Homo sapiens: one gene and its partners. The protein of the gene in region 3 interacts with the protein of the main gene of each other region in a biochemical or structural test. Each region holds a gene or a part of one and is shown on either strand. Other genes may lie near its edges.

Region 1 (7,694 bases), on a different chromosome or scaffold from region 3:
ATTTGGGGTATTAAGCAGAGCATGAAGAAGTGCCTACCTCTCAAAGTCTAAAGGCTGTTTTATCTGGAATGTGGAACCTATTTCCTGTTTGCCTTCATAGTCCAGACTTTTTTCAAAACCACAGTTCATAGAAACAAGTTTCCTTAGCAAGGAAATGCTCCCCTGGCTCTATTTCAAGGAATGCCTAGATAAAGCCCTTAAACTCTAAAATGCCTCTCTCTCCACCTTCCCAAAGAGCCTTGCCCACTAGAATAGCTTTTATTTAGCCTTGTTGTTTCTAAAAACACTTAGAGAATGTCCATCAATAGTGCATCACTTAGGTTTACCTAGTATCTATACAACTGGTACTTACAGACATTAAAAATAATCAGGCAATTTGCACAACAATGTAAATGTACTTAACACTACTGAACTGTATGCTCAAAAATAATTAAGATGGTAAACTTTATGTTATGTATATTTCACCAAAATTAAATGAAAATGAAATTTTAAAAGTCAGGTGTATCCTCATGTATTCAAATAGGAAAAATGCTGAAGATGTCAAGTGAAAAGAACAAATGACAAAGACTGTATCGTGAGAACTTACTTGCTTTTGTATGCACATGGCCACATGTGCATAGAAAACATTTTAGGGGAATGTAAATGGAATATTCTGTAATATTTGAATGATTTAATGGGGGCATAGATTATCTTACTAAACAGAAAGTAGATTAAAAAGAAGCTCAGGGAAGATTGTAAGAATGACAGAAAGTTGATAAAAAGTATTATCCCATATATGAGATAAGAATCATGGCTGCACTTTAAAAAGTCAAGCTCCATGAAGACCTTTTAGCAATTATTATAATTTACTTGCAGATGCAATGCTGCTCATGCTAAGAGGTGATCAATCAATCCTTTGTTAAAATAACTAGCTTCCTGAAGTTCTAGGGAAAATCCACAGTTGGGACTAAACCTAAGGAGGTGCAAATCTAAAGGAGTGTCAAAAACTCAATAATGGCAGCAACCCCATGTGAATCGACAGTTCCTCCTGGTTATTTGAAAACAGGGCAGTCAGCTTCACCTCACACCTCTCTCAATGAATCACTGGAGTTTCTGTCAGGAAGGGGACCTGGAACACAATTAACATGACTTTCACTCTCCTTGCAACTGGGTTTACTGATCCTCTCCTTCCACAAGAATGGTGGGCTGCAGGCGCACAAATGTAACCCCATACCTTGGGCACCAGGTATAGATTAATACACTAGGATTCTAGCTCCACTTTGGAATGAAAGGGACCATGGCTTATTATACTGAAAAAAAATCAAGAAGAACACACTTACATTATTTCAAATTCCATATGGCCCTGTATTATTGAAACTTTCAGTAATTGGCTTTAGGCAAAAATGATGAAGATGGAAAGAACAAAGGAATAAAAGGACATGGGAAAAATAACTAAGAAAAGAGATACATGGTGAGTCAGAGAGATGCTCTGTATCCATTGTGGGGAAAGGCAGACATGACTTCCCTGCAGGGATGCTGATAACTGAGTGAGAAGATGGCAGAGAGTAGACAACATGATAGGAAGGAGGTCTGAGACAGGAAATAAGGAAGGGGAGTCACTTGACCCTTTCCATATGGTCATCTTGCAATTCAATTCAACATTTATTGGGCATCAAGTGTAGGGCAAATTCAGTGCCATACCAAGAGATACATACATACACAATTTACATGTTGCCTTCAAGGAATTTTCAATTCTGGCTTTAGATAGAATCTTTAGGCTAAAAACTGTGAGAAGACTAATCAGGTCAGGAGAGGTGAGGTTGTACATTCCAAGAAGGCAAGCCATGGCCTTGCTTGAAATGCTATTTGCCATTTGGCTAGTGATACTGAAGCACATTACAAAAGTAAGCCCATCCTAAGCTCTTTCATATAAAGGATAGATTTTTAAAGATTCTGTATTCTGGAATGTGGAGATATTTGGGGGGAGAAGGAGGAGAAAGGGAAGGGAATACAATGATCAGGCATTACTGAGATCATTAGATTGGATAATCTAAATGGAAAATCTATGCTTCTCAGCCCCAGTGGGGCCACTGCTTCCCCAGACTTCTGGCTCAAGCACTGAACATTTTCTGAGAGGACAGCCTAAGACCTGGATCAACAGCTTTGAGGCTGAGGTCCAGGGCAGCCGGGGTAGTGTTTACTCTACATGCTGGGCAGCCCGTCTGAAAGCTGGGGATTACCTTTTCAGTTTTCTTACTTGCCACCAGTCAGGGAAGTCTTCCCTTGGAATATACTGCATGTTGAAGTTTGGCTGGGAGCCATAGATTTTCTTTGAGTTGCTGTCATATTGCGCTAGACTGGTACTTGAAGATGGTGGCTGGGAGCCATAGTTTTTCTTTGATTCGTTGTCATATTGGGCTAGAGTGGTACTTGAAGATGGTGCATCCATTTTGAGAACAGGAACTGCCCGAGGTATCTTCAGCTTTGGAGGGGAAGAAATTTTAATACATCACAGTGAGGCACAGATTCAGGTACCGGGAACTGACAATTAAGTATATCAGCTCTTGAAAGAGAGAGAAAGGAAGGAGAGAAGGGAGGGAGGAAGGGAGGGAGGAAGGGAGGAAGGAAAGAGGCAAGGAAAGAAGAAAGGTATGAGCAAGGATATGGAGCAACTGGAACTCATATTTTGCTGGTTGGAGTATGAAGTGGTACAACAACATTGGAAATTTGTTTGCAGAATCTAGTAAATCTGGATGTGCATCTGGTCATACCCTATGACTCATAAATTTTACGTATATATACACAACAGGGAAACCAAAAGACCTGTAAAAGAATGTTCATAGCAGAATTATTTTAATTAGATAAAAACTAGAAACTGCCTACATGCCCATCAAGAGGATAAAATAATAAACATGTTGTGGTTGTTGAAGGCTGAAAAATGGTCTCCCGAATATGTTCATGTCCTAATTCCCAGAACCTGTGAATACCTTACGTGGTAAAAGAGACTTTGCAGATTGTAATTAAGGATTTCGAGATGGGGCAACTATTCTGGATTTTGTGGGGGTGGGCCTGATGTAATCAAAATGGCCTTTATAAAAGGGAGATAAGGTGGTCAGAGATTAGAGAGCTGTGAGGATGGAAGCAGAGGTTAGAGAGTAGAGGTCCTGCAACCTTCTGGTTCTGCAGACAGGGGAAGGAGCCAGGAACCAATAAATGTAAGTACCCCTTAGGAACTGGAAAATGCAAGGAAACAGAATCTTCCCTAAAGCTTCCAGAGGAAACACAGCTGTGCAGACCCATTTTAGACATATGATCTTCCAAACTATAAGAGAATAAATGTATGTTGCTTTAAGCCACTAAATTTGTGTAGTAATTTGTTAGAACAGTAATAAGAAACCAAAACAGTTGTATATTCACACAACTGAATTCTATACAATGATGACGGTAAATATAATCACATACTAAAAAAATAAGCGAATCTCACAAATTGAAGAAAAGAAGACACACAATAAATGACTACACACTTTATAATTCCAGTCATATAAAAGTCAAAATCAGGCAAACAATCTATGATGTTATAAATCAGGTTAGCAACTACTTTTGGAGGGTAGTAGTGACTGAAAGGGAACATCAGGGTGTCCCTGGGGTTCTGTGATGTTGTGTTTCTTTATCTGAGGGTGGATTATACAGAATTGTTCAGTTTGTGAAAATTCATCAAGCTGAACACTTAGGATTTGTGTGCTTTTCTATGTTAATGTTATATTTCAGTTAAAAATTCACAATATGTGTGTGTGTGTCTGTGTGTGCGTGTGTGACAGAAAGAGATGCATTTAATATTTTTTTCATGCTATATTTTAGTTTTTCAGAAATTTCATTTACTTGGAGTTAAGGCTTTGACATTCTGGAAATTTTAATTATGCAGGACAGTGTTATTTATGAGCTGTGAAGTGGGTTATGTCCAAAGAAAAATGCACTAGGAAGTTCCTTAAATGGAAATCATTTAAGGAAATCTCTTTGAACAGAACAACTAGAGAGCTGATTTTTATTTCCTCCATTCAGAAAATAAGCCCTCTACTGAATACTCTGATAAAAAACAAAACAAAGAAAAACATACTTTACATGATACCCTCTGATCCCTGGTTCATTTGGGAAGCTTATAATCAAAACAGGCTTATGAACCCTTAGCCACTGATTTGCCTAGCTGATAATTTTCAATATATTGGCCAAAAAGTTCCCTGCTGGAGACTAGATGCAATGGTTTCTGGCTCTTAATTATCTTCTGCTCTTAGACTTGTCAAAACAAACTTTATTGGTAGTTCATCCTTTTTAAAGTGCAGAATTCAGTGACTTTTGTAAATTTATCAACTTGTATAACTATCACCACAGCCCAGTCTTCCCATCACTCCAATAAGATCCTTCATACCTATTTGCAGTCAATTCTCATCCCTACTCTGGTCCCAGGCAACCACTGATCACCCTTTGTTTCTATAGATTTGCCTAATCTGGGCGTTTCTCCTAGGTGTTTTAGAGGGCCATACTTTTCAAGCTTCAGGACTGAAACATATTTTCAAACCCAAACAGCAATGTTGCTAATAACAAAGTAAAACTCCTAACGATTATAATTGTTTCCTAGGGCTACCATGACAAATTGCTACAAGTTTGGTGGATTAGAACCACAAAAATTTATTGTTTCACAGTTCTAGAGGCTAGAAGTCAAAATCAACATTTCAGCATTGCCATACTTATTCTGAAGCCTCTAGGATAAAATCTTTCCTTGCCTCTTCCAGCTTCTGGTGGTTCCAAGTTGCTATGGTTTGGATATTCGACCCCTCCAAATTTTATGTTGATGTGTGATCTCCAGTGTTGGAGGTAGAGCTTAATGGGAGGTATTTGGGTCATAGGGGCGAATCCCTCATTAATGGCCTAGTGCCATTCTCATGGTAGTGAATGAGTTCTCACTCTATGATTTCCCATGAGAGCTGGTTGTTGAAAAGAGCCTGCTATCTCCCTTCCCTCTCTCTTGTTTCTTCTCTCTCACCATACAATTTCTGCACACACTAGCTCCCCTTCCCTTCTGCCATGAGTGGAAGCAGCCTAAGGCCCTCATCAGATGCCGATGCCAGTGCTATGCTACTTGTACAGCCTGCAGAACGGTGAGCTAAATAAACCTCTTTTCTTTATCAATTACCCAGCCTCAGGTATTCCTTAGTAGAGCACAAATGGACTAAGAAACAGGTGTTCCTTGGCCTGTGGTAACATAACTCCAATCTCTTCCTAGGTCTTCACATGGCCTTCTCCTCTGTGTATCTCTCTGTGTCCTCTCATCTTACTAGTCATTGGATTTATGGCCCACTCTCATCTTTCGTGTGATTTCATCTTGATCTTTAACTAATTACATCTGCAAAGATCCTAGTTCCAATAAGGTCACATTCTGAGGTTCTACATGGATATGAAATTTGGGGGACATTATTCAGTCTACTACAATAATGGATTATTTTTGTCTTTCATGTTGATTCATGAAAATTATGTGGCTTTTACTTAGAAAGAGAGAAGTGTGTGCGAATGTGTGTAGCTGAAAATAAGTACCCAAGACACCATAGATCCAATAGATGGGCGGAGATGTCCCCTTGCTTTCAGGTGAACTTCCAGAGAACCAATGGGAAGCCATTTTTTGTGTATCCTGGCATTTGAGGAGGCTCACACCTGCCTGGGAACCCTAAAAACAGAAGGCTGTGGCTATGAACCCAAGAGAGTAGAGCAAAAAGACAGCAGTAGCCTGTACTTCGAGAGAGAGCTACATACAGCTTAATTAACCAGAGCAATCAAGGTTTTGTTTGTTTTCTTATAGGCCAACTCCACTCTTGGGAAAAAGTTGGCTGACAGCCATCTTGAAAGATTGAGGGCTGAAAATCCAAGAACTGAGGATCAAGATCTCTCCCCTGTCATAAAACTACATATGGATCTGCCCTTCAGTAGGAAATTCCTAAAAGTCTCCCATGAGATAAAGAATCAGTGCTGGAAAACTCACTCCGATACCACCACCACCAAATCATGATAGAAACAGCTATGTGTGTCTTTTTTTAATTAGACCTCATCTTCCTTGGAACTAACTCTGAAAGGGCCATGAATCTCAGCCCCCCCAAAATCCCTCCCCAAAAGCATGCTGCCAGGTGATGCAGGCCCAAGCTAGGTGACAGATGTTTAACTTGGAATGATGTTTGCAGTCATGTGATAATAACATTGGATGGAACAATTCAGAGGCTGTTCTTATGATTACAAGTAATGGGGACATTTTTATCATTTGAGAATGACTGCAAAACTATGGAATTTGGCAAAGACTTTATTTGGAAGCAGGGAAGAAAGCCCACTGAATAGCTTTGAAGGGATAATGGAGGGAAAGAATTATGTTGTTTTCTGCTTTTGTCCTATAGAGTTTCATTTCAACACCAGGATACTTCCACAAAGCAGTCTTGGCCATGTTGATGGTAAGGAAAGAATGACAGCTAATAACAGCTGCCTGTTATGTGTGATGCCATCTTAAGGACATCTCCCGCATGCACCCATTTTTTCTTTTTTTTTTTTTGGTGACTATTTATGGGCTTACTGGCTAGGAAAAGACACAACAATGAAATGCAAAAATATGAGATATTACAATGGTTCTATATTTGAATCCGCTATTCAATACCACCCATAGCTATTATCTAGAGCTCATGGTTTTTCTCTCTTTGCTGAGAAGTCTAAATGAATTCCACATTTTCTAGTCTTGAATCTGGCAACTCTTGGTTTATTTAATATATCCTGACCATGAAAAACATTTTTAAAATGTTGACTTACCACTCTGTCTGGGAAGGTGGGAACTCTGTGTTTCTCTTCATTGACTGCAGTATGCAGATTAGCATCTGAACATTAAAACAAAGTAATATCAGAAGGAACTTTAAACAAAACAAAGAGAAACACTCAATGTTATGAATTAAAAGAATGAACCAGCTTGTGTGAGCAATACTCCAGATTAAGTGAATCCAGACACAACATCTGGAGTGATTCTGTAGCTTTCCTATATAAGGCCCAACTCCTATGTAGGCCATGTATCCTGGAAAGAGGATGGATCAAGGCATCTTGGACAAAAAGAAATAAAGACACCTAACTTTTTCTCTTTTAGTTGTTATGCCCATGGACTTCCCAGTAGCTCAGCAGAAGAAGCCAAGGGAATAAATTATACTTGGACAGATAGACAGTATTACAGCTGCTCAGGAGCTGCAACACCTCTACACTCTGTAGTTTTCCTCAGAGGCACAGCACCTGTGGCACCCAGAACACATGGTGAGTGTCATCCAGACAGAGCCTAGGAAGGCAATCCCAAGGCAGTGCTCTCTCTGGCCTTTTTCCTGCTCCTTCCAGAAAGTTAGGGCATTGTCAAAGCTGGAATCTGACCTGCTAGGTAATGATAATAGACCAAATAGACCATAGACAAAACCACTGGGGAAAATGATTAATACCATAAGGAGACATTACTCCTCAGTCCCTTACAGTGGAGCGAAGACCCATGTGCAACCAATCTGTATAGTTCATTAAATAACTATAATTCATGAGTATATAGAGCAATGTGATCTAGTTGAGATTAATAAATATTCACTGTATAGTCTAATTAAGATGGAAAACACAATGAATATTTATTAATTGATTTTTTGGGGGTAAAATGACCAGTATTAACATTA
Region 2 (7,702 bases), on a different chromosome or scaffold from region 3:
CTCAAACTCCTGAGCTCAAGCAACGCCTGCCTCTGCCTCCCAAAGTTCTGGGATTACAGGTGTGAGGCACCGCCTGTGGCCCAGCGCCAGGATTTTAAATTGGGAGACTGGGCCCAGACGTGGTGGCTCACACCTGTAATCCCAGCTTTTTGGGAGGCTGAGGCGGACGGATCACCTGAGGTCAGGAGTTTAAGACCAGCCTGGGTAACATGGTGACACCTCCATCTCTACTAAAAATACAAAAATTAGCCAGGTATGGTGGTGGACGCCTGTAATCCCAGCTACTCTGGAGGCTGAGGCAGGAGAATTGCTTGAACCCGGGAGGCGGAGGTTGCAGTGAGCCGAGATCGGGCCACTGCATTCCAGCCTGGGAGACAGAGCCAGACTCTGTCTCAAAAAATAAATAAATAAATAAACTGGGAGACCAGGAGGGCCTACCTCTGAAGGGGACTTGAGAAAGGTGAGAGGTGAGGGGGGTTGGTGCTCTGCGGGAAGAGCGCACCAGGCAGTGGAAACAGCCCCTGCCAAGGCCCTGAGGCCAGAGGTTCATTCCATGGGAGGCCAGTGAGGCTACAGGGCTGTGAGCAAGAAGAAAACTTACAGGAGCTGAGGTCAGGAGAGCCAGGTGCGGGGAGTGGAGGACAGATCCTGGAGGGCCGTTTTCAGGCCAGCCCTTGATGTTTAGTAAATCTATGAGTCCTTAGTCAAGACTGAGATTCCTGGGGCAGGTACTGAAATCTTTCTGGGTTTATCTGCAGCCATATCGTCATTATCTGGGAATTCCAGGGCTGTCCTTGGGATCCCAGCCCAGTGCTCCTGCGTGCCAAGTGATCTTGAAGGGTCTGAAATAGGGAGCAGGTAAAAAATGTCAGTTTGGGAACACAGTGGCTCACACTTGTAATCACAGCACTTTGGGAGGGCGAGGCAGAAGGGTCACTTGAGCCCAGGAGTTTCAGACCAGTCTGGGCAACACAGTAAGACCCCATCTCTATAAAAAATTTAAAAATTAGCTGGGTGTGGTGGTGCATGCCTGTAGTCCCAGCTACTTGGAAGGCTGAGGCAGGAGGATCGCTTGAGCCCAGGAATTTGAGGCTACAGCGAGGTATGATCCTGCCACTGCACTCCAGCCTGGGTGACAGAATGAGCCTCTAAAAAAAAGACAAAAGCCAGTTTGGAAAGGTGTTGTGAGAGCCACTATTCCTGAACCAATGCAGAGCAGCTGAAACCCAGGGTGGGCCCCTTGGGAGCTGGCAATTCACCCCACACCTATTCTAGCCTGATTTCATCTTCTTGTTGGCTTGCAGAGAAGGTAGCTAGGGGAACTTTGCCACACCCTTGGGTTTTTTGTTTTGTTTTGTTTTTTATTTATTTTTTTGAGACGGAGTCTCGCTCTGTCGCCCAAGCTAGAGTGCAATGGTACGATCTCGGCTCACTGCAACCTCCGCCTCCTGGGTTCAAGTGATTCTCCTGCCTCAGCCTCCCGAGTGGCTGGGATTACAGGTGCCCGCCATCGTGCCCAGCTAATTTTTTGTATTTTTAGTAGAAACGGGGTTTCACCGTGTTGGCCAGGCTGGTCTTGAACTCCTGACCTCAGGTGATCACCCGCCTTGGCCTCTGAAGTGCTGGGATTACAGGGGCGTGCCCGGCCCCACCGTTGGGTTTTAAAGTTAGGAGTTAAATCTGAGAGGAATCACTGTGAACCAAGTCGGAGAGAGAAGTCAGGCTGTGGGGCTGCTGGAACACGTAAGGTTTTGTTTTTCACTTTGGACCAGTCTCCCCTCCTCAGCTGGGTTTTGTGTCATGGTTTGCCTTCCCTTATAGCTTCACTGCAAAGCTCTTTGGAAGGGCCCACACACAGGTCTTCCAGGGATAGGAAGGACAAGGACTTGGGCCCACAACTCAGGCAGTGGACAACAGCATGTCCTTCCAATGGCAAGGCAGGGAGGCTCCCTAGCAGGCCTGGGGATGAGCCGGGCTCCTCAGCCTGGCTGGCCCAGGGAACTGAGCAGGATCTTAACTGGGGCAGGGGGTGGGGTGGGGGTGCTGGGGTGGGAGGTGTGGTTACAAGTCCTGAATGCAGAGGGGAGAACGTGAACGTGCTGCAGTCAGACCTGGCGATCTGGCTGGGTTAGGAAGGGGCAGGGGGTCTGTTCCAGCCAGGCCCAGTTTAAGGGAGAGGTTGATCTGTGCCCTTAGGCAAGCACTGGGAGGAGCCTGATTCCTTCTCTGAAAGAATACAGTGTAATCTGTTGTTGTTTGAGAGGATTAAATGAGATAACAAATAACCTCCTCTCCCAGGGCTGGTTGCCTTGAAAGTGCTGAAGAAGAGGAGGGCTTTGGGAAGCAGGGCCCAGGTTGGAAGGTTAGGGGTGGTAAGGACTGGAGGACACAGGGGCAGACTTCACCCCCTGCTCAATTGTGCCCAGGCCTCTCTGCCTGGGCTCATGTGAGGAAAGAAACAAAATGGGTGGCGGTGGGGTGGCGCTCAGGCCGGCTGAGAACTTGGGCCCAGAGTTACCGGATCTCCTAATGCCCCCAGAGAAACAGGGAATCTGGATCTGAAATATGAAATCTTCCAGTTTTAAAACTTTGGGGAGTGGCCAGGCATGGTGGCTCACGCCTATAATCCCAGCAGTTTGGGAGGCCGAGGCAGGCGGATCACTTGAGGTCAGGAGTTCCAGCCCAGCCTGGCCAACCCCGTCTCTACTAAAAATACTGTGTGGTCCTGGGCAAAAATTAGCCAGGTGTGGTGGTGCACATCTGTAATTCCAGCTATTCAGGAGGGAGGCTGAGGCTGGAGAATCACTTGAACCCAGGAGGCAGAGGTTGCAGTGAGCCGATATTGAGCCACTGCACTCCAGCCTGAGCCACACAGCGAGACTCTATCTCAAAACCAACAAAAACAAAAAGCAAAAAAAAAAAAAAAAACTTTGGGGATTAATTAACAAAACAACAACAGAAAGCACCGCGCAGGCCAAGTAAAGCCCACCACCTGGCTGGTGACCCCCTGCTCTGGCAAAGGTGTCACTGAAGGCAGGCCCTCCTGGGAGGAGGCTTCTCACTCTCCTGCTCTTGGAAATGGGCTCTAGATAGACCCAGTTTCCTGGTGATCGCTGGGAGAACAGAGCTGTCCTGTTGGGCTTTGTGGTCCTGGGCAAAGCCCTTCCCCTCTCTGGGCCAGTTTCCTGGCCGGCGAAAGGACTTAGTCTGTGGGGCTCCTGCCCGTTTGGACACGTGTGTGACTCAGTCCCTCAGCCTCGAGGAGGGAAGATACGGCTATTATAGAAGTGACTCCTCCCAGGAACTGTGCTTCCGGGATTGGACGCAGGGCCTCAGGCATTTTGCGTGTCCACAGTCACAACTGTGTGAATATAGGTGTGTCATAATTGGAAGCTTTGCATGGCTCAGTGTAAATATCATCACTTTAATGACTTTGTTCTGCAACCTTTCATCGCGGCTCTGCATGCCGGTAGAAGCTTTTATTAATTCTGTGACCTGGGGAGGACAGGGTCCTTCCTCCCATTTGCTGTTTAAGGAAACCCAAGCTCAGAGCTGGGAGGTGGCTTGGCTAAACGTGCACCACTCGGAGCCCAGACTCAAGTGTCGGTGCTTTGGTACTTGTGGCACCCCTCCTTCAACAGGGGAGAATGAGGTTGGGATCTGAGGGGTCCTCTCTGTGCCCATCACAGTTTGAGCTTCAGGGAAAAGAAGAAGAGGTCTTTGCCCTTCGTTTTTCCACGGGAGGAGAATGTATGAGCCCAGGCTACCTTTCTGGGCCTTGTGTCGACATCCCTAGCTGTCTCCTCAAATCTCTTGCCCTGAATCAACCTGGCCTGTGTTCTCTGCGGCACTCGGAACCTGGAGGCGGACTGAGCCTCCAGCAGTCTAACATCTTTTGCAGTGTCGTGAATAGCCGCCTGTTTTCGCAGGGGCCCAGTGCTCTGCCTGGAGAGGAGAGAGATCCTGGCAGGCGGGGAGAGGAGACTTTGGGTCTAGACCCTCCCCTCCCATCCCCTCACCTCCGCTTTTTGTGCGCCCTCCTCTTCCCTCTGTCCCCCCCGCACCCCGTCTTTTCCACCTGTGCCCTGGACTGCATTAGGGTGTCAGTATCTGTGTGCTCCCCCACCCCCACGCGTAAGCCCGCGCGCCTGCACTGAGGCTGGGGAACTGCGTCTCGCAGCTGCGGCCCCCAGCGCGGAGGGCGCGGGCCCTTTAAATCCTCCGGGGCGGCGGCGGCGGGCCGGGGATGACATCAGCGGGCGGGCCCGGGGCTCAATGGGAGCCGGCGGGCGCGCGCGGTGCGAGAGCGCGCGAGCCGGCGGCGGGGGCGGGCGGGCGGGCAGGAGGCCGGGAGGAGGGAGGCGGCGGCGGCGGCGGCGGCGGCGGCGAGAGCCCAGAGCCAGAGCCCGGCCGGGGCCGAGCGGAGCGCGGCGGCGGCGGCGGCGGCGGCGGCTGGGCCGGGAGAGGCTGGCGCGCCGGGCGGCTCCGCGAATCCTCCGGCATCCGCCCCGGCGGGCCGCCCCCGCCCGCGGCAGCCCCCCGAGCAGTGGCCCGGCATCGGCGCCTTCCCGGCGGGGTAAATATCGGGGGGCCGCGGGCCCGCGGAAGGGTGCAAACCTGGGGGGAATCGGGCTCCCTCAGCCTCTTTGTTTTTGCTGGAGAGGGAGGGAAGGGAGGGCAGACACACGCGCGTTCGCGCTGGGGTGTAGGGGGGGCAGCCCGGGCGCCGCCCGCTCGGCCCGGCGAGGACAAAGGCGCGGCTGGGGACGAGGAGGAGGGGGCCTGTTATTTTGCAGGCTCGCGGGGGAGGCCCCCCGGCCGGCCTGCCTCCGCTTCCCCCCGCTGGGCCCTCCGAGGCCCCGGCCGGCCAGGCGGCCACCCCGGCTGTGATTTGGGGACGCTGAGGGAGGGGGCTTGGGGTGCTGGGCGCCGGATACTGTTGATTCGGGCCCGCGTAGCGTTTCATCGGACAATCACCGGCGCCCCCTGCTCTCCCGGCCCCGGCGCCCGGACCTGGGGGTTCGCAAGGCTGCGCCCGCTCGTTGGATGACGGGCGTTTGGGGGTCCTAAGGTGAAGAGGTGTGTGGTCACCAGGCCACTGATTTGTTTTTCTTTGTGGAGAGAAAGAAAGGGGTGGGGGTTATTTGTCGGATCGGATTCTCCCATTTTTGTGTGAGAGATTGATGTCTTGCAAGTCTCTAAGGAACGCAAAACAGTGTCTGGGTGTCGTTAGAGGATTCCCAAGCTCTTGTTAATACCCTAACTCGAAGTGGGGTGAGCCCCCTCCCCAACTTTTCCCTTAGTTTTCTTGCATATTTTCTTCCTGGCATAGCCTCCTTCCTGGAGAAGGATTTGGAGAGAGGAGAAGGGGACACAAGTGTCTCAAGTTGCTTCCAAGCAATGCCTGTGTTTGGGTCTCCTTTGCCTTCGTTTCTATGATGTCCCTTCAATTTTTATTTTAATCGTCCGAGGGACAAGGGCCCCGGCTCAGGGGTAGGCGATGGTGTTCGGGGAGTAAGAAGCACTGCCCGTGTGCCATGCTGGTTGGTAGTTTGTCTAATTTTTTTAACCTGCTGAAACTCTTGAACCTTTATATCCACTTTTCCCCCCACTTTGTTTATCTCCCCCCCTCCCCCATGGGAGAAGCAGCAAAAGAACTGAAAAGCCTCTCCATTCCTGAATGAAGCTTTTCTGCTCTCCTCTGGGAGGCTTTTTGGGTATTGGTGCCGGGACAGTCTAGGCTCCCCCAGGGACCTTGGACCCCTGGGGTGTTGGGGAGCGACTGGGGGTCTGGGTGGCTGGCACATAGCAGTCAGGGGGTCCTGAAGGGCTTGCCCCTTCCCGCTCTCGTTCTCTGCAGACAGCCGGTGAGTGGGGAGAGACTGGGGGGTCATGTGCAGTATATTTATGTAAGACACCCAGACAGAGGGCACGGGTATTTATATAACCCGGCGTGGGTATTTATGTAATATAGGATGCGGGTATATTTATGTTCCTTTCCTAACCTGCGGGTTTCCTGGCTGCCATGTGTGGTCTCTGAATTGGTGTTGGCAGAAAGTGGACTGAGGTGTTGGGGGGGGGTTGCGTGCACACCCCCCCTTACCCCCCAACAGGGCTCACTGTGTGTGCCTGCTTTTCTTTCTTCCGTTGGAGTGTACACACTCGGGAAGCTGGACGTGTGTGTACGTGGGATGTGTGGCGTGTGGGTTTCCTGCAAACGTGGACTGTGTTCCCCTGGCAGCGTGGCACCTCAGCTGAGACAGGCCAAGCATATGGGCAGCGGCCCTTGATTGAGAGCCCAGAGTTTGGCCAGCTCTGGTGGAGGTCCCTGCCTCGTGGTTATTGGTGGAGGGCTGGTGAGCTCCTTGGGAGCCAGGTGCCGGGGTTCCCTGTCTCTCCTGGGATCTGCCCACTGTCCCTGGAATCCATCTCCCTCCCAGGCTGGCCTGGTTGTTGGGGGCAGCACTTGGCACGGGCAAGGGGCTGATCTTCTGTGCCAGCACAGCTGCTCTGCAGTCTTCCTGTTTTGCCCTGTTTGTGAGTGTGGGAGACCACCAGGTGGGACAGCCGGAGCCCTGTCCTCGGCGAGGCTGTACCATCTGCAGGGTGGTGTGGGACAGGTGGCATGGCCTCTGTGAGCCTGAGTACCCTGTCTGTGAAAGGAGTTCCCTCTTGCTAGTCCTTGATGCTGGTCCTCTTGTAAACACCCCTCCCCCTGTTTACTGCAGTCCCTGGTCCCTGTCCCCACGGCAGCACTGCCTCCAGGCCTTCAGTTTCCTCCTCTGCTGACCAGGAACAGGGTGTCCGGACTTTTGCCCCAGGCCAGAGCAGAGGGGTCCCTCCTCTGCCCCAGGCCAGAGCAGAGGGCTCCCCCCTGGCCCTGAGGAAGGAGAGAAGCTGCTCACATCAGAACTCCTCCTCCCACCCATCCGGGGCAGGCGGCTAAAACCCTGGCTCAGTCCCCTTTGTTGTTCTATGAGGGCCCTCTTAGGAGACCCTCCTAGTCTTAAAGGACGCCAGCTCCAAACAGTTTATCCAAGCGGCTATGGGCCTCCGTGTGAGGTCTTGGTGTCATGACGTAGAGATGGGGAGGTGGCTGGAAGGTGGATGGTCGAGGGCATTCTTTTCTGCCTTCCCCCCAGTAGGGGATGCGACTTTCTCCTGCAAGGCGTGCTGGGCACTGGCGAGGTCTGGCCTCTGGGCAGGGGCAGTACTTGGGAAGACCAGGCCAGGCTGTGGGAGCCTGGGGGGTAGGAGGTGTAAGAGGGCTGATGCCCGTTGTGATCCCTTGAGAAGCTTCTTTTGAGGGGCCCCTGAATGAGCATCCCCCAAAGACATGCTTGCTTGGCTGCTTCCTCTCTGGCCACACTGAAACCTGTCCTCAGCCTGCCTTAGCTGTTCCCCAGGTGTGTGGAGTGCAGGCTGTGGGCCACCTGACACCTGCAGAATGTGGTCTTCGAGAATGCAGGTTTTCGAGTTCCTGGTGGCTCTGCCTGGCCTTGGTGGACTGGACCCCTTTCCCGGCTCCCCACGTCGCTGACCCTCATGTTCCTGCTTCCTCTGCAGCAAGAGTGAGCCATGGAGCTACGTGTGGGGAACAAGTACCGCCTGGGACGGAAGATCGGGAGCGGGTCCTTCGGAGATATCTACCTGGGTAAGTGTTCCTAGCTCCAGCTGGAGCCCCTGGGGCCAGCCCATGGGA
Region 3 (7,694 bases):
TCTTAGCCATGTTCCCAAAGGTATGAATAAATTAACACTATGGAGCTATTTTTATGTGCATGAAAGTTGTTTCGAGATGAAAATACATACATACATATAGATGTATATATACAGTTGTGCACTTAAATTTCTATATAGTAATCTTCCACAGAATCAAAGATTGCCTGTGATCTCTGATATGAATGAAAGCAATGCCTCTTTGTTCTGTGAACTTGGAAAAACTATTTCTCTGAGTCTCTGTTTGCTTACCAGTGAAAAGTGCTTACCTCAAGGTAGATATTTGTAAACAGTAGTCTCTCGGTAAACAGAATTCTTACTAGTACAAGGAACTAACTAGATAACCAGAAGAGAAGAGAGAACAAATAGTCAGTTCAAAACCAAAGTGTTTGCATGGACAAAAGCAAAGGCCAGGGCTGCATAACACTGACATTTTTATTAGAATTCATTTGTAACAAATGGAACTTGTGTCAGCAAAGAACTGATTTTCATACAGACTTCTTTCGCCACCAATGTAACGAAGTAAGAAAATAAAAAGCACGCCTTTCATTCTGTAAAACATTTACGCGTACTACTAATTAGAGGTAATTGTATTTTTTAACAAGCCATTTTACAAGTTATTTGTTTTAATTTTTCAGTCTATGCATCCAAAACGAGAGCAAAGAACACAACTGTTATTATCTTTGTAAAGACACTCCAAGCTGGGATGGCAAAGCCACATAACGGATGGATAGAATGGATCTGTAGCCTTCTGATCTCTGCTGGAGTATCAGGGCACCCATAAACCCAAAAGGAACCAAAACCCAAAAAGAAAAACAAAAAGGGAATTAAAAATAAAAGGACTTAAAGCAAAACCGAAAATAAACAGGAAAGAAAAAAAATACGTGCATTACTGCAGACTTTTTTCCCTTCCTGTTTCTATGTTGTGTTATTTACATACACACAAATGAATTTCCGAAGCAGTTTCTTACAGATGGGTTCAAGTAATATCATTATTGGGTGTAGAATCAATAGGGCAGTGCATAGTACAAAGGTATAGAAAGTGCAAAGTTCCCTAGAGGCCCTTCCCTCCCCTGGCTGTCCTCGCCGTTTTCTAACCATGCAAATCATTTTTAAAAAAGAGCTAAAATAAAGTTCTGTACAAATCACTTTTTATATATTTTGATTTTTTTTACCATTGTAACTAATTACAAAATTATACATAACTACACGTACATAGGTAAATAATAGCACCGTACTGGTTATGATGATGAAAATAACTGGAAACTTGAAAGCTTGTGGTAATGGCAGATAAAGATGGTTCACCTGGGAAATTAAAACTTGAATGGTTGTACAGAAAAGCACAGAGTGGAATGCACATCAATGACAGTAAGGGAGTTAGTTCTAGGAACAGCTCCTGAACAGTAAGATTCCCGCAATAGTCTCCGCCTCGTTCGTCTATGGTATGCATCCCATTCATTTTCTTCTTCTGATTATTGTCATCTTTCCCTTTGCCAAATGGGCAGTTATTGTTTCAGGGAGAGAAGCTGCTCATTGGCCAATCATTCTGGTGTGCAGTGCTCCATCGGATTCTACATGTCCAACAAGGCATGTCTGGATGATGCAATGTCTGTCTGACCCCCTTTGTTTAACTAAAAGAAAATTATAGCACTGAGTAATCTGGCACTTGGATAAATCTCCAAAAAGATACAAACTAAAAGAAAATAATGATAACAGACCCACATAGTGCACATTCTTCTCTGGTTCTGATGTAGGTTAGAGAGTCTCATTCTGAGGTAGCCTTCTAGATACTTTTTTTTAGTATTATATATATTTTCTTTTTTTTCTTTTTCTTTGTTTTTTACAAAAGTGCTCAAATACAATGCTTGCAAATGTTTGGTCTCTTGGATTTCACTCTGCTAGCAATGGGAAAATGTGGAAAACAAAAATCCTTCCATGCAGAACATCCATGAAGCTAAAATTAAACCAAAGTAGTATACTCATACCAAAACTCTTTAAGAGTTCCTTGGGTATTTTGAGGATTATTTAAAATCATGTAATATGTGGCAAACTTATGCCATCATCCATGGCTTCCTATAGAAATTCTGTTGGAAGAATTGGGGGTAAGATACATATATATATATAGTTTATTTCCCCTTTTAGAAAAATCCTAATGGAATATCAAATATATTCCAAAGTTGCCAATGATATTTGTTACTAAAATAAGTTTGGTGCAGTTACTGCATGTTCCAGAGCGGATTTGGAAGGGAATATAAATAAAACAAGTAGCTTTTTCTGATGTTGATGATTGATTATAAAAGGAAGAAGGGCCCTGATTATCCAAGTGCTTTGGGCTGGTACAATCACTAACATCCCCGACTTGGCTGAAAACTAGGAATGCATATTATTCAAAGAGTTTTTGTACATGTGGTAAACAGATAATGCTTTAATAGAAAGTAACAGATACGAACAGTGAATGGAAATACGAACCAAAAGCTAAAAAGAAATGCTATTAAAATAGGCATCAATTATAAGGCACTCTAAATGCAAAACTAAAACCAAAACGAAACAAAGTACAGCACTTCCCAGGAATGCTGTATGCCACAAAATGTTTCTGACTGAACAGAGTAACATGAATTTGGCTTTGCCCCTGTTACATATCATAAATGCAAATTTCATAGCACATACTATAGACAATATACGATTGAATACACTTTTTTTAAACAACTCGATAGCTGATATATTACAACATTCTCCCCTCCTAAAGGGATATGCACTGACCTTTCCCACATGCACACCTCTTAGCTATTTAATAATAATTTTTATTGCACTAGAGTGTTAGAAATATTGAACTTTGTTGGAAGCCTGACTAACAAACAAACAAAACAATTTGTGGATGTGATTGATTGGTTAGGTGGGGGTAGATTAGGTAGGAAATCAGGGGGTGAGGTTTGACAATCAATCACTGATGTGCATTCCTCATTTCCCTTTAAAGAAATACCAATATGTCAAAAAATTAAGAATAAATGGAAAGAGATGTTTACAATAGCTTTTCTACGTTTAAAAAAACTAAATCATGGAAGAACTGACTGACTGATAACTGTATCTATTTTTTGTGTGGACACACTGTCTATATATACATAGACACCCTTATAAAATATGGATATATATGTATATATGTTAGCAGCAACTTTATACTTTGCGCCTCCCTGTTGATTCCAAAAACAAAACAAAATAATAATTATCTTTGATTATTTGAAGAGAATGGGTACTTTCTCACCAATCAAAACTGAAGTGTAAAATTAATATATCTGACGAGACTGATACTGTAGATTGAGTTTTGCACAAAAATGTGCAAATTTTCAAATGATTTGATATTTCTACAGCAAGATATTACAGATAACAGTTCTACAGCTTAAAAAAACCTACGATTTGGAAATAAAAAAATGAAGAGTTATGTAACTTTTTTAAAATTCACTTTATCGAATGATACATTTTGTTAAAAAAAAGTTTACACAGTTAGAAATGAAGCACAGGTCAGCAGTATCTTTACAATACTAAAAAACTAAATCAAGGACTTTCTTTTTAAACATTCCCTCCCCTTTCCCCCTAAAATGTTATTATGAGCAGTATGGTGGGAAGGGGCGATGTCAAAGCAGAGTCCGTTTCATTGTGAGAAGCCACACCAGCACATATCTTGTGCTGAACTGCAGCATTCTGGCAATTTCTCCTTGCACCTTTCAAGCAATCCTGAATAAGATGGTGGTTCTTTGCTGTGATTTCTTCTTCCCTTGATTTTGAATCCTTGAGGTATCTGTAAATAAAATCCTTCAGATGCCTCATCAGTCAGGATTCTCTTCATTATTTTTCAGGTTAGATTATTAAACTGTGAATTCTTGGTCCACCTGGAATAATTTGTTTTTAATTTGTTTTGTGTGTAATAGTCCCACTAAGTAGTTGTTAGCTAGAAGTTAAGAAGGACTTCTCAAGTGCCCTGTATGGCTCAGAAGAGACTCCATGGATATTGAAGGGCCTGTAGTAAAAATCCAGAATGGGTCAGGGGTTTCTACGTTGCATAGTGGTCAAAGCTGCCCAGGTACTCTAGTGCGGCACGATAGGAAAACTGATATTGATCCTGCAGGAGACAATGAATGGGGAGAAGCAAAAGAAGGGACCATGAGCATATTTTAATAGAAAAATAAAAATCAATATTGCATAACAAAATAACATCTATATAGGGGCAAAATCACTACTTTCGTCAACTGGTCTAATCCAATGACCAATTGTTTATAGTGAACAAAGAAAAAGCCACATGGGGTGTTGATTAACTTTGCCAATCAATTTGACTAAAACGATCTCCCAATTCCAAGCAGTGGCAGGTCGAGTGAACATTACCTTCCCAGACAAGTGTTTTCCAAGTAGTATCAAACCATTACCACCAATTGAACACATAAACTTCTTACATGCCTTATAAGCAGATAATGATGAAAATCATCCTTTACAATTATCTGCTTATTCAAGATAACTAATTCTCAGTTTAAATATTTAAGAGAGGCTGATACAGACACAAACTGTCCTGAGAAAAATCTGAATTTACTTATCTTCTGAACTACTGCCAACAGAATTTGAATTTTTAAAAAATTATGTTTGGACAGTAGAGCTTGCAGTGAGAATCACTCACAGTCATTTCAGCTACCCTTTGGCTGTCTCTCTCACTTACATATGATGTTCATATACAGCCAGAAGGTAGCTGGTGCGGCACACCAGGCACACAAATCCATTTACACAGGGCACTGGACTTCCAAGCTTTCCATCCCTGAAAATGGCTTCACAGGACTGGCTGCCCACATCAAAAAATACCTGTAAATTCAGCCCAATTCTGTGTGATTGCTAGTTGTCTGTTTTAGAGAGGCACACACTAAAAAAAAGCAGTATGAAGCATGGCCTTTTTCAGACAACGAAGAACACTATCATATTGGAATAAATTGAAGCATTGTTGGAGAGATGGAAAAATCACAATTTACAGCTCTCTATAGGGATGAGGAAAAGGATTTTCCCCATAAAAGAAACCTATTTTCAGTGGCCAATCGGGCTGAAAGTAGACAGATAGTTTCTATTTTGCTTAAATGTGCATTTTTCTGTAATAAAAATGGTTGGTAATGCAAAATAAATGGTGTTTACTTTCCTATCTTGTCACAGTAAGTTGCTTGGCTGAGTGTTAAGGCTTTTTAAATGTCCAATTTCCCTCTGTAACCCCTAAGACCCATTAAGTTTGTCAAGCTGGCATAATGTTTTGACTATTGCAAGCCAAACACTTGCACTACTTTGAAATCCGTCTGAAAGATACTGTGGATGATGAATTGAGGAACACATATAAGTTGTATAATTTGGTGGCCTTTTGCAGAACATAAACTCTATCAGTAATATTATCTTTAGAAATGAATGCTCAATAGACCAGACTGGCTATATCATAAACTCTTATTATTACGAGAAATATCCAAATTTCCATATTAATTATTGGAATAGGAAATGAGGGGCTAATATTAATATCTCTAGGCTTATCCAGAATCAAAATGTTTTGAATGGCCATTGTTAAGACATGAAATATAGAAGAGCTGATACCTCTGTAGGCATACAGAGGGAGAATGGAGAAGTTAAATGGGCTGAGATTATATTATGTACTAAATATTATGCTTTCTATATATTTATATATTTATATTATAGGACTATGAATATAACGAATTTTATGAAATTGCCATTTTATTGGTCAAAAATGGTCCAGTAGTAAAATTTAACATAGCTCAATCTAACATATAATCTCACATAATTTCTATAGCAACACTAAGACACTAATAATCTCATCCCATTTAAAAAGGGGGAAAATGAGGTTCAAAATTATTAAACAGTTTGATGCTTTCCCCACAGTATTTTGTGTCTGGTGTTGAGAGAGTATGGAGTCCGGGAGGTCCAGGCTAGCAAAACGTAGGCTCTTGAGATGCGAAAAATGCAATGGATTTTCTCACCTCTGTCTGTACCATAGCTGGTCGTTGTGTTCTTAACATTTTGACAGTCTGGAAGATATCTACAACTCCTTCATATCTCATTCTTTCCAAAACAATGCTTAGCGTTATGAAGACTCCAGTTCTTCCAACGCCCGCGCTGCCACAATAACAAAGGCGATGTTACTGGGTGAGATGTTCACAGTCTTGGCCACATTTGCTTGGGTGTGGACATACTTCTACCAGCTTCCACACTCCGTATCTCTTTATAGCCATATTCAGGAAAACATGGTATCACATTCATCAAATGATTACTCTTGGGATACTGAGTTGTAACAGCATGTGATAATGAGGATGAAGTAATTAGGAGTAAGTCTAATAAAAGGTCTTTTCAATGGGGATTTATACCATTTTAGAAAGACCAAGGAAACATAACAAATGAAAAGAAAGGGTAAATAACATATAGGTTTATAATATTCATGGAGATTCTGAAATTTACAACCTGCCTACTTAATATTTTTAAAGTATGAAATAATTCAGAATAAGGTGAAGTGAATTTGGCATCTTCAACTTTTCTATCACACTGTTCACATTTTGCAGTTACTTAAAATACATATGCGATGCCCATAACCTAAATGTATTTGCCTATAACTAGTCAAATGTTTACACTGGTTTTATTATGAGAAAAGAGATGGTATAACAGGGTATATACGTGATTTTCACTTAGTCTTCAGGAGGGTTTATGACTATCCTGTAAGTGTACGTACACATGAAGTAAATACTATGTTGTTTTCTTATTTCTTGAGACTTAGAACTTTCAACAGATTCTCACAGGGGTCTCTAATCTTAAAAAAAAATGGTTAAGAGCCATTGATCTCTGAACTTAGCTACCATTTTTACATGATCAGCAACTAAAACCACATTAGAAAGGTTTTGAGTTTCTCTCTGTTGTCTTCATTGTTTTAAGATAACTCCAGAATCTTCACGGTAGCAAGAAAGAAAATTAATTCATAGCTCTTGTGCACTTAAGGAGGAAAGCAATGGGAAGTTCAGATAATGAGGGAAACAGTGAATAATCTGAAAAATCCCTGCATTTTTGGATCCTAATTAAACAGCATGTGTAACACTTGGGCACGGGCTGTAGAAAATAGATGGATTCATTTACTGGAGGGTGTAGCTGACAGGCATATATAAATAGTGTGTCCCTTTATAAATGGGGTTTCTACAGTCTAAACAGAAATGTTAAGTGAGGTTTGAAAATCCAAGCGGAGTCAGTCTTTAAGAAGTGATTGAAGATGTCTAGCGGCAGTGAAACCTTCTGTTAAGATGAAGCAGATGACCTTGAAGGTCCCTTTTAACCTTGAAAGTCTCTCTTAGTTGTGAGAAACTGAGATTTATTATCTTTTTGTTGAATGATCTAGGTACTCCAGAGTCTATCTTACCTTGCCAGAGTCTATCTTACCTTGATTTGATAGCTCGAATGCAACAAAAACATTGGGTTACTTTCTACTAAGTATTTTCAAAAAAAGAACAGACATTGGACTCACAACTTTTCAATTTACTGGTTTTATCATCTTACTTTAATAAGTTATAAATAAGAAAAGTGGTATTTTCAGAACATTCCTAAATAAGAGGAAATATATAGAAGTCTTCTTTGTGTGTGTGTGTGTGTGTGTGTGTGTATATATATATATATATATATATATATATATATATATA
Region 4 (7,694 bases), on a different chromosome or scaffold from region 3:
CCCTTCCAATTCACCCCTGCGTGGCGCCCGACTGAGGCCTCCACCTCCAGTGACTGCACAGGCCGCCCCCCACCCCGGCCAGGCCCCGCAGCCCTTTCCTGTGCCCTTGCATCTGACCCCAGACTTTCTGCTATGGTGTCTGCTTTCCAGCCGCCTCCAGGCATGGGCTGGGACACTGCAGGGCCACATGGTCACCTGAGGGGGCCGTGGCCTGGACAGAGACCACCACTGGCAGCCAAGAGTGAACAGCCGAGGCAGAGGGGGCCCGGAGCTCTGAGGGCTGCGCTCTCTGCTGACCACTGGCTAGGCTGTCCGGAGGAAGCCGCCTCAGCTCTCTGAGCTTGAGTCTTGGGCCTCTGGGGGGGCCTGAATCTCAGCTCCCCACCTCCCTGCTGTGTGCATGCGGGTAGGCCTGTCAGAGCCGTTCTCTCATCTGTGAAGCAGAGGTGATGACAGCCCTCCCTCTAGCACAGATGGACAAATGAGACAAGATGTGTCCAGGGCCCGGGAACCAGCAGGACTGCAGGTGGAGGCCCATAGTTGGAGGCCCACAGATGGAGGCCATGGTGATTGCTATTGTCTGTCCCATGCATTCCCATTCTAGGATGTATACAGAAATGTCCTGTGGGCGGCTGGGCACAGTGGCTCACGCCTGTAATTCCAGCACTTTGGGAGGCCGAGGCGGGCAGATCACCTGAGATCAGAAGTTCAAGACCAGCGTGGCCAACATGGTGAAACCCTGTCTCTACTAAAAATACAAAATTAGCTGGGCGTGGTTGTGTGTGCCTGCAGTCCCAGCTACTCGGGAGGCTGAGGCAGGAGAATCGCTTGAACCCAGGATGCGGAGGTTGTGGTGAGCCAAGATTGCACCACTGCACTCCAGCCTGGGCAACAAGAGCGAAACTCTGTCTCAATAAATAAATTAAAAATGTCCTGTGGGCTTGGTCTGAATGAGCCTCAGCCTCTCTTTCCCTCCGCTGCGCTCCCCTGAAAACTCATCAAGTATAGGGTCACACACTAGATGCCTGCAGGGGCTGGGCAGGCCACACTGACAGGAAGGGGAGGCAGGCAGGGGCTGCAGGGGACCAGGAAGCCTGTCTAATGGGGGTGCCACAGCTTAGCACCCAGATCCAACTGTTTCCCAGTAGATACCAGAAATCTGGATTGTTGTGGGAAATCCTGAGTTTAAAATAGAGGGATTAGCCAGGCATAGTGGCTTGCTTGAGCCCAGGAGTTGGAAGTTGCAGCGAGCCATGATCGCACCACTGCACTCCAGCCTGAGCAAGAGTAAGACCCCGTCTCGTTAAAAAATAGAAGGAATCAGCCGGGCGCAGTGACTCACACCTGTAATCCCAGCACTTTGGGAGGTGGGCGAATCACTTGAGGTCAGGAGTTCGAGATCAGCCTGGCCAACATGGTGAAACCTTGTCTCTACTAAAAATACAATAAAAAATTTGCCAGGCGTGGTGGCGGGCATCTATAGTCCCAGCTACTCGGGAGGCTGAGGCAAGAGAATGGCTTGAACCTGGGAGGCAGAGGTTGCTGTGAGCCAAGATCACACCACTGCACCCCAGCCTGGGCAACAGAGCGAGGCTCTGTCTCAAAAAATAAACAAAACAAATAAAATACAATAAAATAAATAAAAGGAATCATCTTCTGCTGGGGTCAAACCCAGCCCTACCTCCTCCCACAGCCAAAACAGGGCCCATGAACTCCACGGGGACCCCTATCCCCACCCAGCCTCCACTCACCTGAGGGCTCCTTGAGGGGTCGGGCGAGGGTGAGGGAGCGGCCCAGGAACAGGTGCAGATCCAGCAGGTAGGGGATTTCATCAGGGGCCACCAAGGAGTAGGCTGTGCCACTTCGGCCAGCCCGAGCCACACGGCCTGCAGCAAGGAGACGTTCAAGCTTAATTAAGCAAAGAAGGACCCGGACCCAGCATGAGTTCCACAGGCCAGACCCTGAGCAGGTGAGCCTGGCCAAGCCTCGAACCTCACACGGCTGCTGTCCCCACCTACGCACAGGGAAGTTTAATCCCGGTCCCTAGGTTGATCTGTGAGAGTGTGCCCAAGCTGACACAGTGCTCTGGGAGACTAGCAAAAATACAGCAAGGCCCTGCTCATGAGCATGATCAAAACTCTTCAGTGTCCCCACTTTTGAGAATTCCCCGCAAAGATGTAAAGATTCACACACAAGGAGGTTTAGTGTGGCCCTGACTAGGACAGCCCCAAGTTGGAAACTAAAGTCTCAAGGGTAGAGGACTAGATAAGTGAATTAGCTGATGGCCACACAGTGGGAATTAAACAGCTCAGGAAAAGAGTGGGCAAACTGCAGCCTACAGGGCCAGGCTGGTGGCTCACGCCTGTAATCACAGCACTTTGAGGGGCTGAGGTGGGAGAATCACTTGAGGCCAGGAGTTCGAGAACAGCCTGGGCAAAATAGCAAGACCCCATGTCTACAAAAAACGAAAATTAGCCAGATGTGATGGTGTGTGCCTGTAGCCCTAAGTACTTGGGAGGCTGAGCTGGGAGGATTGCTTGAATCTGGGAGTTCAAGCTTACAGTGAGCTATGATCATGCCACAGCACTAGAGCCCAAGCAACAGAGTGAGATCCCGGCCCCCTGCTTGTCTGTGTAAATAAAGATTTATTGGAACACAGCCACACTCATTTGTTTATATATTATCTATATAAATGAATAGGCAGCAGTCACACGACAGCAGCAGAGATGAACAGTTATGACAGAGACAGTATGGTCCACAAAGCCTAACGTTTCATGTCTAGCCCCTTACAGAAAAGATGTGCCAACCCATCACAGAATGACATTTCATAGTAAACGAAAAACATTCGTGATGTATGGTGATGTAAAAAGAAAAAAACAAAAAGCCAGTTATAAAAAAGAACACCCAATATGATTGCAATTTTGCATGAAGTACCTAAATCACTACATAGCATTATATTTTGGTTTGTCTCTGTATCTTGGGAAAACAAGGTGTTATGACATTTGGAGATTTCATTTGAGGTTGTCTGACCGGCACTGTTGGTCTTGTGAGGCACAAGAAATTCCCTTTGGGGGCGTCCTGGGGACCTCCCTAGGGACATGCAGAACCAGCTCTCCACACAGCAACAGAAACTAGGGGACAGCAGACAGCAACAAGGGGGAAGTGCACCCACCACATGACACTTATGAATTAAAAGAAGGCAAAGAAAGTAGAATAACAGTTACCAGGGGCTGCGGGAGGGGAATAAGGAGATTTTGTCTGACGGATAGAGCTTCAATTTTGCAAGATGGAAAAGTTCTGGGGCCAAGCATGGTGGCTCACGCCTGTAATCACAGCACTTTGGGAGGCTGAGGCAGATGCATCACTTGAGGTTAGGAGTTCAAGACCACCTTGGCCAACATGGTGAAACCCCTGTCTCTACTAAAAACACAAAAAATTAGCTGGGCCTGGTGGCGAGCACCTGTAATCCCAGCTACTCGGGAGGCTGATGCAAGAGAATAGCTAGAACCTGGGAGGTGAAGGTTGCAGTGAGCCGAGATCACACCCCTGCACTCCAGCCTGGGGTACAAAGCAAGACTCTCAAAAAAAAAAAAAAAAGTTTTGGGGACAGATGGTGGTGACAGTTGCACAATGGGAACAGACTCAATGCCACTCCACTGCACACTGGGAAATGGCAAAATGCTGAATTGCATGCTATGTCTACTTTACCACAACTTAAAATAGAAACATCAGAAGAATGGACACACACCAAAATGACGGCCATGTCATCAGAGAGCAATGGGGGACAGTGATCTCTGAAATGAGACCACAGCTGTTCCGTGACTTACGAAGGGCTGCGTCTCAATAAACCCAATAGCCGTCAAAAACACACGCACGGCACCTAACCCACTAAACATCGCAGCTCAGCCAGCCTGCCTTGAGCATGCTCCAAATACTTCCATTAGCCTACCCTTGGGCAAAATCATCCCACACATAGCCGATTTTAAAATAAAGTGTTGAGTATCTCATGTAACTTATTGAATACTGTACTGAAAGAAAAAAATAGAACAGCTGTATGGGTGCTATTGTAAAGTCAAAAAAACCATAAGCTGAATAATTGGGTTGTTTTTTTTTTTTGGTTTTTTTGAGACAAGATCTTGCTCCGTCACCCAGGCTGGATCGCAGTGGCACGATCGCGAGTTTGAGACCAGCTTAAGCAATATAGCGAGGCTCTGTCTCTAAAACAAGGCCCACAGCCACCCCATGTGCAGTGTCAAGAGTTAAGCCTTGTACCCTCGGCTTCTGCCAGGATCCGGCACCCCTGCCTGCCCCAGGGCCAGCCACGGGCTGCTTACCCACGCGGTGCAGGAAGAGTTTGCCCTTGGCGGGGAAGCTGTAGTTGATGACATTGTCCAGCAGCGGGATGTCCAGGCCTCGGGCGGCCAGGTCAGTCACAATGAGAGTGGAGCACTTGCCAAGCGTGAATTTGGCGAGATTGATCTTGCGGGCTGTCGGGTCTAGGGCACTGTAGATGTGGGCGCAGCTCACCCGCTGGGTCGTCAGCAGCTGCTCAGAGCAAAGATGGTAGCAAAGTGAGAAGGAGACTTGGAGGAGAAAGGAAAGGAAGCCAGACCATGGCGGGGGACGGGCACTGAGGTGCAGAGACAAGACCACGGGTTCTGGAGTCTGGCACCCTTGGTCTGAATCCCAGCTTGCTGGGTGATGCCAGTTTGGGGAGGAATGGAGCTTACAACACCTCCCACCTCTCTGCAGGGTTGTCTGAGGATCAGAGATGATGTGTGCAGAGGGCCCTCTCAGGGAAGCTGCAAATGCCACCTCAGTGCACAAGCCTTATCCGGATTCTGCTACAAACAAGCTGTGTGACCTTGGGCAAGTTACCAAACTTTTCTATGCCTCATTTTCCTCATCTGTACGAATAACTGCCCCTTCTTTGTGCCTTATTATGAGGATCACATGAGTCAGTATATACAGTGCTGAGAACAGAGTCTCAACATGGAACACTCATGAGAGTGCTAGCTGTTCTTTACAGATTACTATTTAAACTGGGCATGGTGGCTCACGCCTGTAATCCAGCATTTCGGGAAACCAAGGCTGGAAAATCACTTGAGACCAGAAACTCGAGACTAGCCTGGGTAACACAGCAAGACACCATCTCTACAAAAAAAATTAAAATAAATAAAAAATGAGCTGGCATGGTCAGGCATGACTTGTGCCTACAGTCCCAGGTACTTCGGAGGCTGAGGTGGGTGGATCACTTGAGCCCAGGAGGCAGAGGTTGCAGTAAGCCATGATCATGCCATTGCACTCCAGCCTGGCCAAAGGAGCAAAACTCTCTCTAAAAAAACAACTGTTTAAAAATTACTATTTTGGTCTTATTCACTGGTGACCCCAGCAGCTGCACAGAGGGAGTGTTGTTAACTGTGTGTGGAGTAAGTGAAACCCAGTGAACCATGTCCTCAGATAACAGACCCAGGTGTAGCTGACAGGGAGGCAGGCACCAACGGAAAGGGGCCCCACTGCCTTCTGGGGCACAGCGACTCCCCAGGCTTTGACCCAGGCGGGGGTCACACAGGCATAACACATATGAAAAAAATCTTTGAGCCACTCACACATGCTAACAGCGCTTCACACAGCTTGCTACATGCAGGTCATGCCTCAATCTTAAGAAGTCAAACAAACCACATACTAAAAATCTACAGGAAAATAACAGGATGGCAGGGACAGGCTTCAAAATAACCCGGATGTAAGGGGAACTAACGGATGAAGGTCAAGACCAGCTATCAGCTGGTAACAGTTGTACCTAGATAACGAGTACCCGGGGTTCATCATATTATTTTCTGATCTTAGAATTGGTTTGAAATTTTCTCACAATAAAAAGTTTAGGCCAGGCGCTGTGGCTTACACCTGTAATCCCAGCACTTTAGGAGGCTGAGACGGGCAGATCATTTGAGGTCAGGAGTTCAAGACCCACCTGGCCAACACGGCAAAACCCCGTCTCCATGAGAAATACAAAAATTAGACAGGCATGGTGGCGCCTGAAGTCTCAGCTACTCAGGAGGATGAGGCAGGAGAATCACTTGAACCTGGGAGGTGGAGGTTGCAGTGAGCTGAGATCGTGCCACTGCACTCCAGCCTGGGCGACAGAGTGAGATACCATTTCCAAAAAAAAAAAAAAAGAAATGTTTTCATAATCCCAGTACTATAATCCCAGTACTATGGGAGGCCAAGGTGGGAGGATCACCTGAGCCCAGGAGTTCAAGACCAGCTTGGGCAACCGAGTGAGAACCTGTCTTTACAAAATATAAAAATAAGTAACAAGTTAGTTGGGCATGGTGACATGCGCCAGAAGTCCCAAGTACTCGGGAGGCTGAGGCGGGAGAATTGTTTGAGCCTGGAAGGTCAAGGCTGCAGTGAGCCACGATTGTGCCACTGCACTCTAGCCTGGATGGCAGAGCGAGGCTCCGTCTCAAAAAAATAAAAAATAAAAATAAAAATGACCATCTTGAGCCCAGGCCCAGGCTCCTGGTCCGCTCTCGTGCTGCCCTCTAGTGACTGCACAGGGAACTGCAGCTCCAAACTCCAGCTGAAGGAGGTGCTCCTCCCACTCAGGACCCTGCTCACCTCAGTGAGGTACTCGGCGTGGTGCTTCGTGGCCACAAACACCACGGTCTGGTCCTGGGGCCGCACCACGTTGTGCAGCAGGTGGAGCAGCACGGCAGCCTTGGTGTCCTCCCGCACGAGGAAGAAGGAGGTCTGTGGGGAGAGGGCATCACGTGTTGGCTTACGGGGTCCTGGCCCAGGGCCTGCAGGGCCCACCTGGACACAACCTCCTGGGATGGGACAGGTGCAGCCTCACCTTCAGCTGCTCGTTGAGCTTGGTATCCACGTCAAGCCGGATGAGCACGGGCTCCGTGAGGCCTGCAGGAGACATGGGGGAAAGTGGGGGAGTCGCAGAGGGACTGGCCCCCAGGCCCCAGCCTGACCCCCAGCCCCCATCTCCACCCCCAGCTCACGCACCAGCCCGGGCAAATTCCACCAGCAGTTTGGGCAGCGTGGCGGAGAACAGCACCGTCTGGTGGCCCCCGGGGAGGCGGGCGATGATCTCCTGCAGCTGCTCTGCGAAACCCATTTCAAAAAGCCTGGAAGGGTAGAGGGCAGGACTGGGTCAGAGGGGGCCTTCACTCCCTGGAGTTCCAACCGCAGCCATCCTTGTCCCCACAACTTCTGCAGTGTCCCAGGGCTTGCCTCACTCTAACTCAGCCCACTCACACTTATCACGTGACTTCATCCTAAACAACAATAACCTTGAAATCTGGAATCTGTCTTGGTCATGTTCTTACAAACTCATGCTGAAATAAATGACAGCAGCCCAGGCTGGCTGCAGAGGCTCACACCTGTAATCCCAGCACTTTGAGAGGCCAAGGCAGGAGGAGTTCAAGAACACCCTAGGCGAGATCCCATCTCTACAAAAATAAAAAATTAGCTGGGGCCGGGCGCAGTGGCTCAGGCCTGTAATCCCAAGCACTTTGGGAGGCCAAGGCGGGCGGATCATGAGGTCAGGAGATCGAGACCATCCTGGCTAACACAGTGAAACCCCGTCTCTATTAAAAATACAAAAAAATTAGCCGGGCGTGGTGGCGGGCGCCTGTAGTCCCAGCTACTCGAGAGGCTGAGGCAAGAGAATGGCGTGAACC

The links.
Region 1: the proteins of PTPRD (region 3) and BMX form a complex in vitro, tested with the Homo sapiens proteins (one study listed by BioGRID and IntAct).
Region 2: the proteins of PTPRD (region 3) and CSNK1E form a complex in vitro, tested with the Homo sapiens proteins (one study listed by BioGRID and IntAct).
Region 4: the proteins of PTPRD (region 3) and DDX54 form a complex in vitro, tested with the Homo sapiens proteins (one study listed by BioGRID and IntAct).

What each region holds. Positions count from the first base shown.
Region 1 is NC_000023.11:15,517,113-15,524,806, reverse strand, and holds part of BMX (cytoplasmic tyrosine-protein kinase BMX), read right to left. Parts: intron 6,879-7,694; coding exon 6,814-6,878; intron 6,611-6,813; exon of another isoform or gene 5,880-6,610; coding exon of another isoform or gene 5,828-5,879; intron 2,462-5,827; coding exon 2,220-2,461; intron 1-2,219. UniProt on the Homo sapiens protein: Non-receptor tyrosine kinase that plays central but diverse modulatory roles in various signaling processes involved in the regulation of actin reorganization, cell migration, cell proliferation and survival, cell adhesion, and apoptosis.
Region 2 is NC_000022.11:38,314,034-38,321,735, reverse strand, and holds the start of CSNK1E (casein kinase I), read left to right. Parts: upstream 1-4,302; 5' UTR 4,303-4,576; intron 4,577-7,566; 5' UTR 7,567-7,578; coding exon 7,579-7,654; intron 7,655-7,702. Other genes in the region: TPTEP2-CSNK1E (casein kinase I), read left to right, coding at 7,579-7,654.
Region 3 is NC_000009.12:8,313,832-8,321,525, forward strand, and holds the end of PTPRD (receptor-type tyrosine-protein phosphatase delta isoform 1 precursor), read right to left. Parts: intron 6,136-7,694; coding exon 6,000-6,135; intron 4,112-5,999; coding exon 4,043-4,111; 3' UTR 415-4,042; downstream 1-414.
Region 4 is NC_000012.12:113,168,019-113,175,712, forward strand, and holds part of DDX54 (ATP-dependent RNA helicase DDX54), read right to left. Parts: intron 7,140-7,694; coding exon 7,018-7,139; intron 6,919-7,017; coding exon 6,857-6,918; intron 6,754-6,856; coding exon 6,622-6,753; intron 4,546-6,621; coding exon 4,335-4,545; intron 1,887-4,334; coding exon 1,752-1,886; intron 1-1,751.